Linked DNA regions of Homo sapiens. The protein of the gene in region 1 interacts with the protein of each later gene in a pairwise test. Each region holds a gene or a part of one and is shown in the gene's direction. Other genes may lie near its edges. The genes, in order: HR, TBL1X and RARB.

Region 1 (3,649 bases):
GCCCTCCCTGTGGGGCCCAGTGGGTCCTAAGCCCCTGTGCCCCTCTCTGCAGGATGACCGCATCACCAACATCCTGGACAGCATTATCGCACAGGTGGTGGAACGGAAGATCCAGGAGAAAGCCCTGGGGCCGGGGCTTCGAGCTGGCCCGGGTCTGCGCAAGGGCCTGGGCCTGCCCCTCTCTCCAGTGCGGCCCCGGCTGCCTCCCCCAGGGGCTTTGCTGTGGCTGCAGGAGCCCCAGCCTTGCCCTCGGCGTGGCTTCCACCTCTTCCAGGAGCACTGGAGGCAGGGCCAGGTGAGGCACCCCTCCCCTCCCCTCCCGGCCCTGGCCACCCCACCTGCCCCTCGGGGCCTTGGTCCCTAGGCCCAGACAGACCCAGTGGCTCAGGGGGAGCAGGAGGGCTGTCCCCGAGCTGTTCTACTGCCCTTACAACACGCCCTTGCCTGGCCATGGCGGGCACCCTGGCCATTCTCCTCATGGCCTCCTTCCTTTCCCACCACAGCCTGTGTTGGTGTCAGGGATCCAAAGGACATTGCAGGGCAACCTGTGGGGGACAGAAGCTCTTGGGGCACTTGGAGGCCAGGTGCAGGCGCTGAGCCCCCTCGGACCTCCCCAGCCCAGCAGCCTGGGCAGCACAACATTCTGGGAGGGCTTCTCCTGGCCTGAGCGTAAGTGTCCCCAACACAGGGGAGAGGGAGCTGGGAGCCCAAGCCCTAGGGATCGGGTGGCAGAGGAGTCCCAGGGTGACCCCGAGGGGCTGGAAGCAGGTGTTGCTGCCGCCGGGGCAGGGGCTTCAGGGCTGAGGAGGCCAATGGCCGTTCTGTCTCCTCCTGTAGTTCGCCCAAAGTCAGACGAGGGCTCTGTCCTCCTGCTGCACCGAGCTTTGGGGGATGAGGACACCAGCAGGTGTGTATGTCACCAAGGGCCAGCCCTACCTCCCCGCCACCGCAGGCCCCGCCTGGTTCAGCCCTCCCCTCCTCCTCTGCCCCCAACCCCCACCCCGTGGTCCCTGGTACTCTCATGTTTGCCCTCTGGGAGTTACCCCGGTGGTGGTGGGGCTTTGATGGGGTCTCTGGTGCCCAGGTTGGGCCTGCTGGGCATGACCCCCTACCCTGACAGGGTGGAGAACCTAGCTGCCAGTCTGCCACTTCCGGAGTACTGCGCCCTCCATGGAAAACTCAACCTGGCTTCCTACCTCCCACCGGGCCTTGCCCTGCGTCCACTGGAGCCCCAGCTCTGGGCAGCCTATGGTGAGTGTCCCTCCACTCCTGCCCAGTCTCTACTCCCATGCCTGTCTGCCTGTCATCTCGGGGCACACGAGCGTCTGTGCCAAGGCCCTGGGGCCTGAAGCGCTTCTCTGATTCCATTTCTTTCTTTCTTTTTTTTTTTTTTTGTTGTTGTTGAGACGGAGTTTTGCTCTTGTTGCCCAGGCTGGAGTGCAATGGCACTATCTCGGCTCACCGCAACCTCCGCCTCCCAGGTTCAAGCAATTCTCCTGCCTCAGCCTCCCGAGTAGCTGGGATTACAGGCATGCACCACCACGCCCGGCTAATTTTTTCTATTTTTAGTAGAGAGGGGGTTTCTCCATGTTGAGGCTGGTCTCAAACTCCTGACCTCAGGTGATCTGCCCGCCTGGGCCTCCCAAAGTGCCAGGATTACAGGCGTGAGCAACCGCGCCTGGCTCTCTGATTCCATTTCTAACTGTTCTTTCTCTATTGCCATGCAGGTGTGAGCCCGCACCGGGGACACCTGGGGACCAAGAACCTCTGTGTGGAGGTGGCCGACCTGGTCAGCATCCTGGTGCATGCCGACACACCACTGCCTGCCTGGCACCGGGCACAGAAAGGTAGGTCCTCGGCCAGAGGCAGGAGCGGGGACAAGCTACAGAGGTGAGTGTTTGTCGCCACCAGCCCTGGGCCTGCCTGAGCGCTCTTTCCTCCTCAGACTTCCTTTCAGGCCTGGACGGGGAGGGGCTCTGGTCTCCGGGCAGCCAGGTCAGCACTGTGTGGCACGTGTTCCGGGCACAGGACGCCCAGCGCATCCGCCGCTTTCTCCAGATGGTGAGGAGGCAGCCGGGAGCCCTCCCCTTCCCCCCGCCCAGCCCTAGAAGCTCGTCCAGTCCCACCCCAGTGTGCGGTCCCATGTGCTCGCTCCCTGCCCCACGCCCTCAGGTGAGCTGCACAGACCCAACTCGCACAGACAGGTGCAGAGAAGGCAGAGGGGACCCGGAGTTCTGCCGTGGGGCTCAGAGAAGGGGCAGGGGCTGCGGCAGGAGAGCCTGGACCCGATGATGAAATGAGAGCACCAGCTGCCCGAGGCTGGACGTGGTGCTAGGGCCTTAGGCACAATTATCTGTTACCCGTCTCAGCCCCCCGCCCCATGAGGCAGGCACTGCTCCTTTCCCATTGGCAGATGAGAACACCGAAGCTCAGTGGCAGGGCTGGGATCTGAGCTTCTGTCTGTCATGGCCCCAGGTCACTACTCTATGCTCTTCCTGGAGGCAGGCAGCCTCCTCTGCCTTCTGAGACTCCGTCCGGCTGCCCACCTTTTGGTATTTGCATCTTGTTAGGGGAGACTGCCTGGAGGAGATGCTCCCGGAGGGGCTAGCAAGGAAGGGGGCTGAGGGAAGTGGAGGGAGAGATGGGTCAGGTGAGGAGCCAGGGAAGGGGAAGGTGATGGGGTGGGCTGGAGGCAAGAAGCTTGAGGCGCAGGGGAGGAGAGAGTCCAGGGGTAAGGCGAGGGCAGCCCCGTGGTTCCCAAGTCCAGCTGAGCCCTCATTATCCTGGGGAAAAGACTTCCACCTAGTGTCACCCCTCGCCAAGGCACACACACACACGGAGACGTGCAGAGGCCAGCATGGTGTGCACCCCTCCTGCCCACAGGTACACACATGTGTAGATACACACACAGATGCTGGGACACGCAGAGGGGAGCAGACAAGCACACCTCCACACACAGATGGCCTCTTCTGGGCTGGGTGTGGCTGGCCGTGGGCAGTCACTACGGCCCAACCCAGTGACTCACGGGGCAGGGCTGAGGGGCACAGTCTCCCTGGGTGGCCTGGGAAACACTGCTCAGCTCCAGGATGGAGCTGAATCTCCAAGGGCAAAGGAATCTTGGCACCCAGCTGGGACTCCCCTAGGGTCCAATTTGCTTCACCAGCCTTCCCTTCCCCCACGCCCCATCTTGCAGCCCTAAGCCCAGGGGCAATGGCTGAGGTCCTTGCCAAAGGGGGTGGATTGGGCTGGTGGTGGGTTGGAGCACGATGCTGGCGTCCCCTTTGCACATGTTCCCTGGGCACCTCTGTCCTCTGCGAGTCCCTGCCTGCCCAGAGAGCTCCCTGCTCTGGTTAGGCTTGTGAGGTCCCCGTAGCTGTGGCTGCTGCAGAGGCCTCAGCCTGGCCGGAAAGCCTGTTCACCTGCTGGCACTCAGAGCCTCGCAGTGGTCCTTCCCTTTTCTGCATCCGGAATCTTAGGGAGACCCTGATGAACACTTTGAGTTGTCTCCCCAGGGACACACAGCTCTCTCCTCATCCACCACTTAGCACACAATTCTGGCCATTCCAAAGACTTCAGATGAAGAAGTCCTGGTAGACAGTTTATGAACTGGGATTATGCAGGACGTCTCCCTCGGATTTGCAGAAAGGGG
Region 2 (3,649 bases), on another chromosome or scaffold:
AGACTGGTTAAGGATGACGGTTTTATGTTAACTAAACATTGGGATCAAGTGACAGTTGTTTATGTCCGGTGCCTAGAGTATCAGTTTTCCCATGATTAAAATAAGCGATATTTTGGTAAACATTGATAAGTTAGTTGCGCATTTTAGTTCAGAAACCCACAGCGAGTCAGAAGGCGCTTTGTGCTGCTGGGCGCCTCTGAGTGATTCCGGGGAGTGCGGCAGTTCTCCAGCCCCAGGAGACCCTGTGAAAGAAGCACAAACAATGCTCACGGCAAAACTCACAGTGTTTATTCTTGACCTGGGTGTCTGCCTTGAATTCTTGTCATTTTTCCTATCGTGGTGGATGTAGCCGGAATGCTTTAAAGAAAACATGAGAGTTTTTTCTGCCTGTTTCCCTTGAGCCTGGAACCGATTATGACCCCAGATAGCCTGCACAGGGCTCTTTCCTTTCTGGAACACCTGCCCAGGCTAGAATATGGGAGTAGGGAGGAGGTGAGGCTCTCTCCTGCCCGGTAACCTTCCCGGCCAGCTCTCCAAGACGCTGAAACCTTCCTTCGGGTCTGTTGAAACTGCATCCCCAGCACCATCATGTCGGAGCAAGAAGAGAAGGGCATGTGTCCCCTTTAGGCTTGACTCTTTCCAATTAGGGACCTGCCTGTTGTTAGGATTTAGAGTCCATGTGAATGTGCAGTATTGTTCAGTGCTGCGAGCATTTTTGCTTGTCTGAATTTCCTGATAGAAGGGAATTTGGACAAAAAGAAGCTTATTGTACATGGTGCCATTTTATTCCTTAAATCAATAATAACAAATACTTTATTTATGTATTTTTAGAGATGGGGTCTTGCTCTGTTGCCCTGATCATAGCTCACTGCAGCCTTGGCTTTCTGGGCTCAAGTGATCCTTCTGCCTCAGCCTCCCAAGTAGCTGGGCCGACAGGCACAAGTCAGCATGTCCAGCTTTTTTTTTTTCTTTCTTTTTTTTTTTTTTTTTAATTTTCAATTTTTTTCTAGAGATTGGGTCTTGCTGTGTTGCCTAGGCTGGTCTTGAGCACCTGGACTCAAGCAATCTTCCTGCATCGGCCTCCCAAAGTGCTGCGATTACAGTTGTGAGCTACTGTTCCTGGCCAACATATACTTTAATATGGCAAGACCATATAAAATAATTTTAAGAGGCCAGGTGTGGTGGCTCATGCCCCCCAGCACTTTGGGAGGCTGAGGGGGGCAGATCACGAGGTCAGGAGATCGAGACCATTCTAGCTAACACGGTGAAACCCCGTCTCTACTAAAAATACAAAAAATTAGCCAGGCATGGTGGTGGGCGCCTATAGTCCCAGCTCCTTGGGAGGCTGAGACAGGAGAATGGCGTGAACCATGGAGGTGGAGCTTGCAGTGAGCCAAGATTGCGCCACTGCACTCCAGCCTGGGTGACAGAGCAAGACTCCGTCTCAAAAAAAAAAACAATAATTTTAAGAACTGGAGGAAAATTCAGCAGGACTGAGTCGTGATTTCAGTTTCTGGTGCACTGTGGGTAATTGGGTAATTGTCAGCCTGGATGCTTGTGCTCCTTTAGTTGTCACTGTTACCTTGTCATCTATGTGAAGATGAGAAATGAAGTTGAGTGGAGAACTGTCGCCAAAGTCTGCCATGTAAAAATCGGTAGTGCCAATGTGCAAAGGTAATTCCCAGGTGCTATAAAAGTCCAGGTGGCTTCACAGTTTCAGATTGTATTTCCCGAAAGCGTAGAGAATTGATATCCCTGAATAGGAAATTGACGTCCCTGCCATTTGGTTCATTTGGGGAACAGAATAAACTTGTGTCCTTGCCTTCAGTTCTTTTTTCAACAGAATCTTATCAAGCATTTGAATCGTACACAACTGTAATGCCAGCTCCATGTTGATAAAAACTCAAGAATTCAAAATTATAAACTTGAAAACAGCAATTGCCAACTTCTGACAGTAGCAGGAGAGTCTGGAGGACCTGTTCAGAGGAAGTCGGGTACTGTTTCCTTTTCTTGTCTAGGTTTGTTCTTGTCCGATGGGATCAGAGAGATTGAGATGGGGCATGATAGGCGGTGGGTTCAGGAGAAAGGGAAGCTTTAGAAATGAAGGTAGAAAAGATGCTTTCTTATTGGAACAGTGTTTTCAACGTTGAGCTCTGGAATGTTGCAGCCAACTAATGGTTCTCATTTGGGACAGTTCTGTCCCCCACCTTTGAAGGGGGTTTGGTTTAATTCCCAATTTGATTATGAAGAAAATACCAGATTCAGCTTGCATTTTCAAGACACAGTGGTTCTATGTCAACTTCAGCCATTTCCAGGGATCTGTCTTAGGATACTTCAAAAAGCCTAACCTTTGAGATGCACTCAGCTCATAAGTTCGTGAAAATAAGAATGAATAATCTTCCCTGTCCAGTACATGACAGAAATTATTGTAGACCAGATGAGAGCAAGGAGAGATACTTGTTGATATTACATGTCACGGGATGCTCTGTTAAATTTTATGGGACTCTGAGTGTAATTCCTTTAAGCCAGTAGTCTCTAAATTTGGGGGAAGGACAGGGGACAGAAATGACTTGTTTCAGATTTTAATTCCCAAAAGGGTCTTAGTGAGTTTCATGCCCTCTGGCAGGTGCACAGCAAGATTTATTGGGATGCAGGAAGAAATTATGAAAATGTCCATTAAGAAAATCTCTAATACTTGTAAAAAATATATTTCTTGTCCATGAAATGCATGTTACTTGAGTATTTTATATATTTAATAAATTACATGAGTTAGGAGCACCTTCTGAAAACTTTTTTGCTGAAAAGGATATATGATGAAAGAAACATTTATGATGTAGGTCCCCAAAGGCTGGAAGAGGGGGTGATACCAACGTCCCTGCCTGCAGGTAGGACACAGTTGTACTCCCCTTTCCTCTGACTTCAGCTACTAAGGTATGTGTGCGTTTGCACGCACATGTATGTGCGTTAAGTAACTTTGAGATCCACCAGCTTAAGGACTGGACATCGTTCCAGAGGTACAGGTATTAGTGATTTGACTTAGGGAAGAAAGAATATGCAATAACAGGGAACCATGCACATACTGGATCTATTGTATTTTGCGTGTTGTTTTTAAAGCTGAAAAAATGCGCTTGTTTCGGAACTAGATGACAGTACCTGTTTGCAGGTCCACAAGGAAACCTTGGAACAATGCTATGCTTTTTAAGCGTTTTATGACTGCATTGTTTTCATAATCACTGAATTCTGTTTATAAATCAGCTGATTTCATTGACGGATGCCCTCAGGGCTCTGGAGAATTAGGCGTTTTGCTGCAGAAATGGTTCAGAATTTCAAAGACATCAACGTGAGATTGTACTGGAATTGAGTTGTGATAAAAGTCCTAGGGTGCTTTAAATCTTTAAATCTGGTTATTTGTTTGTTTGTTTTTTGAGGCAGAGTCTCACTCTGTCGCCTAGGCTAGAGTGTAGTGGCGTGATCTCAGCTCACTGCAACCTCCGCCTCCTGGGTTCAAGCAATTCTCCTGCCTCAGCCTCCCGAGTTGCTGGGATTACAGGCGCCTGCCACTGCACCCGGCTAATTTTTGTATTTTTAGTAGAGACGGGGTTTTGCCATGTTGGCCAGGCTGGTCTCGAACTCCTGACCTCAGGTGATC
Region 3 (3,649 bases), on another chromosome or scaffold:
TCCATGATTAGACATTCAAATAAAAGTGCTTGGGTGTCTGTTTTCATATTCATAGGTCGAGATCCGTACATCAGAGGTATTTGTATAAGTGACACTTTTATTACATTCATTTCATTTGCAATATGATAGTGGATCATAAATATGTTACTTTTATGCCACCAAATCTGATTTGTAGCACTTAGCCCCTCACAAGGAGAATACTTGATATTTTATGGAGCACCTTTCATCCAAGAAGCGCTTTGCAAACATCAGGCCGGGTTCTATCAGGTGTATAAATCACATCTGTGACCCCCTGAATGCCCCACCTGCTTCATCAACCTTCTGGCTACTACTGTAGGGGTGGAGAGCAGTTAGTGATTCCCCCGCAGACCCCAACATGATAGTGAGACCTTTAAGTTCTGGAAGAAAGAGGCTCAGGTGAACTCTGTATTGCCACATATAGGCCCTGACAGTGGACAGAACACCACATTTAGTTATATGTCTACCTTATCATTTGCAAAACAGTTTTGAGGCCCCCATCTGTGGGTCGGATCTTGTATTAAGCCCTGGGGACATAGAGACAAGTAACATGTGGCCCTTGCCTTTCAGATATTCACAGACTTGGAGGGGAGGGCTTTGATGCAGGCTTGACAGTGTTTGCTCCTCTCTTTGCCTCTCCATTCCCTCCCAGAGGTGCACCGTACCTGAAAGCAGCTTGTCAAACTCCCAGGTCTGGCATAGGTATATGAGTGCATATACCAGTCAGTCGCAATCAGAGTGAAAGAAGAGGTCCACCATCAAACATCCCAGGCAGCCTTGGAGCTGAGCATCAGATGCACACCCCACGCTCCCAGAGAAGAGAGTCATCTCCCCACCCACCATCCCATAGCATCCCTCAATTTACCCTCCCAATTCCCCAGCGTTAGCTTCCTAATCTAGGACCAGTAGGATCCCCCTGCCACACCCAGTAATACACAGGCACAGCTCCCTGTAGCATCCTTCATTGTACTCACTACGCTGTGGACTGTGTGTACATGGGGTAGACTCAGACGCAGCGGAGCACAGTGGGTTTCCTAAGTTCTGATCCTGACTGTATCACTCACAGGATGCATGGCCTCAGGCAGGGTACTCACCTTCCTGTGCCTCCACTTTCTCATCTGCAAAATGGGTATAATAGTGATATCTACTCTATTAGGTTGTTGTAAGGATTGAATGGCCTACCATGAATAGAAGGCTTTATGATAGTTGTAATGAACACTTTCAGTATTGTGGTAAATAATACTCTCGTATATTAATTGCAGTACATGTAATAATAGTGATGCCAATATTCTATTATTATTATTATTACTGTCACTGTTTTATTGTATGATGAATGTCTGTCTGCTACCATAAGTTTTTGCTCCATGGTAGCAACAACCATCCTGTTTTGCGATGGCACATAGTAGATACTCAATAAATATTCATTGAATGAATGAATGAACAAAACAATGAAGGAACAAATGAATCCACCCACTCATTTGGTGCCACTGCGATGGCTTCTCCAAGCACCATTTTTCATATCAGTCTCCTCTGCCACTGACAGCCACAGGCCCCACAGTAATCCCCACAAGTCCTTGGTGTTTAGGTCATCCATTTCCCCCACGGAAGGGCCTTACATTCTTCCTGCATAACTAACCCACATAGGCCTTTACAGTAGTCTACCTCCTTCCCACCAAGCCCACCATCTGTGTGTCTCCATGCAGGTGCTACTGCCATCTCGGGGGAGGCTCTGAAAGGAGCTGTCTCCTCTGGAGTTGACCCCAGGTGGTAAGTGGTGGAGCTAGCACTAGTTCCAGATCTCCTGACTTCCCCTGCAGTACTTGTATCGCCCTTGCCTCCCACTGCTGGCCTCCAGGGGAACGAGTCCCTGCACTGCCCCAGGAGCCACTGACCACGAGGCCTCAAAGGGACCAATAGTCCCAAGAACTTGGACAAAGCTACCATCCCTAGGCCCCCGTGGCTTCTTGTGCACTGTGTCACCTCCATGATTCTGGTGGTTCTTGGCAGCCCTTCTCAAACACTGCGTCTGCGTTCTTCTAGAGTTTAAAACCATTGAGGGAAGCAGCTGCTGAAGCCACGTGTTTAGAAAATTTGTCCGTCAACTTATGAAGCTGTATGTAATTGGGGCATCATCACCAGAGGGGTTGTCCCTGCATTTTGTGGGTGTGGAAGAATTTGTGATAATCCCAGGAGTCCTTTATTCACATAGACAGTGGTGGTGGGACTTCACGTAGGGGACAAAAGGAGTGTGGAAAGTAGCCTGAGGTTACACACTGCTCCCCTTCGAGTGAGCTGCAAAGGCTGCTCCAAATTGGGCCCAAAGCACAGAAAATGGTGCTCTGGCTTCACAGTTGTGATTTTGCAAACGGCGTGTGTGATCACTGCACAACCCAACAGAGATGCCCAACTTGGTGCCCAGCTGCAGCTCACCCAGGGCCCCTTCCCACAGGACCTCACCCCTCCCTTTCTTGCTTGGTTCAGTTACTTCATGGTGACAGCTCACAGTGTCTCCTCTCTCCTGGTAACCCTCTAGAGCTGGGTTTGCTCGTCTGAGTTTTCCAGGCCCCTGGTGGTGGATGGGGACAGTGAAGCAGAATGCTTAGGAGCAGACACAGGTCCTGCAGACTTCCCTGTGGATGGGATTATGGGGACTCCTTCTGTGGGTTGTTAGTTTGTTTTGTGGTTTCTCTTTCTGCACATTGGGTTGACTATTTTCAAACATGGTATTGTTGGGCCTCAAGTTCCTTGAGTGTAGAAATGGGGTCATAAGGCCCACCTCACCTGGCTTACTGTGGGGATTTCGCGAGCTAGGATTCTTCACCTGCTGATGCCCAGTGGCCCTTGCCACACAATCACTAAAGGGTAGTGAGGCTGCTGCTGTGTTTTAATGTAGCTGTAGGTGTCATCTCAGCTTCAGAATCGACTCAAACAGTTCCTGGTATTTAGCGATGTGTCACCTCCCACAGGGCTCTGGGTTTTTTGTTGGTGTTGTTTTGTGATATAATTCACGTAGCATAACATTCATCATTTTAAACTGTACCATTCAGCGGTGCGTAGTGGATCCACTAAGTTGTGCAGCCTTCACCAGTAAGTCCAGAACATTTTCATCTCCTAAAAAACAAAACCCTGAACCCGTTAGCACTCCCGATCCTCCCTCCCCACCAACTTGCCCCCGTACCTGACAGCCACGAGTCTACTTTTTGTCTTTGGATTGGCCTGTTCTGGACATCCATATAATTTAGAATCACACAATGTGTGGCCTTTTGCGACTGGCTTCTTTAAGGCGTATGTGTGAAAGCTTCATCTGTGTTGTAGTATGCATCCATAATTCATTCCTTTCTATGACAAATAATATTCCACCATAAGGACGTCCTAGATTCCACTTCCCCGTCATCGGGTGATGAACATTTGGGTTCTTTCCACTTTTCAACTGCCGTGAGTCACACTGTCATGAACATTCATGGACAAGTTTTGCATAGACACATATTTTCAGTTCTCTTGGGTGTACACCTAGGAGAGGAATTGCTGCGTCACATGGTACCTCTGCGTATAACTTTGAGAAAAACTGCCGAGTACTCTTCCTCGGGGCTCTGTTTCAGAAGGACCCTCCCTGCTTAGATTTGACTTTTTC

The links.
Region 2: the proteins of HR (region 1) and TBL1X interact in a two-hybrid assay, tested with the Homo sapiens proteins (one large-scale study listed by BioGRID and IntAct).
Region 3: the proteins of HR (region 1) and RARB interact in a two-hybrid assay, tested with the Homo sapiens proteins (one large-scale study listed by BioGRID and IntAct).

What each region holds. Positions count from the first base shown.
Region 1 is NC_000008.11:22,117,362-22,121,010, reverse strand, and holds part of HR (lysine-specific demethylase hairless), read left to right. Parts: intron 1-52; coding exon 53-295; intron 296-503; coding exon 504-669; intron 670-837; coding exon 838-907; intron 908-1,120; coding exon 1,121-1,251; intron 1,252-1,727; coding exon 1,728-1,847; intron 1,848-1,945; coding exon 1,946-2,061; intron 2,062-3,649. UniProt on the Homo sapiens protein: Histone demethylase that specifically demethylates both mono- and dimethylated 'Lys-9' of histone H3. May act as a transcription regulator controlling hair biology (via targeting of collagens), neural activity, and cell cycle.
Region 2 is NC_000023.11:9,471,467-9,475,115, forward strand, and holds part of TBL1X (F-box-like/WD repeat-containing protein TBL1X), read left to right. Parts: intron 1-3,649. UniProt on the Homo sapiens protein: F-box-like protein involved in the recruitment of the ubiquitin/19S proteasome complex to nuclear receptor-regulated transcription units. Plays an essential role in transcription activation mediated by nuclear receptors.
Region 3 is NC_000003.12:25,564,133-25,567,781, forward strand, and holds part of RARB (retinoic acid receptor beta), read left to right. Parts: intron 1-3,649. UniProt on the Homo sapiens protein: Receptor for retinoic acid. Retinoic acid receptors bind as heterodimers to their target response elements in response to their ligands, all-trans or 9-cis retinoic acid, and regulate gene expression in various biological processes.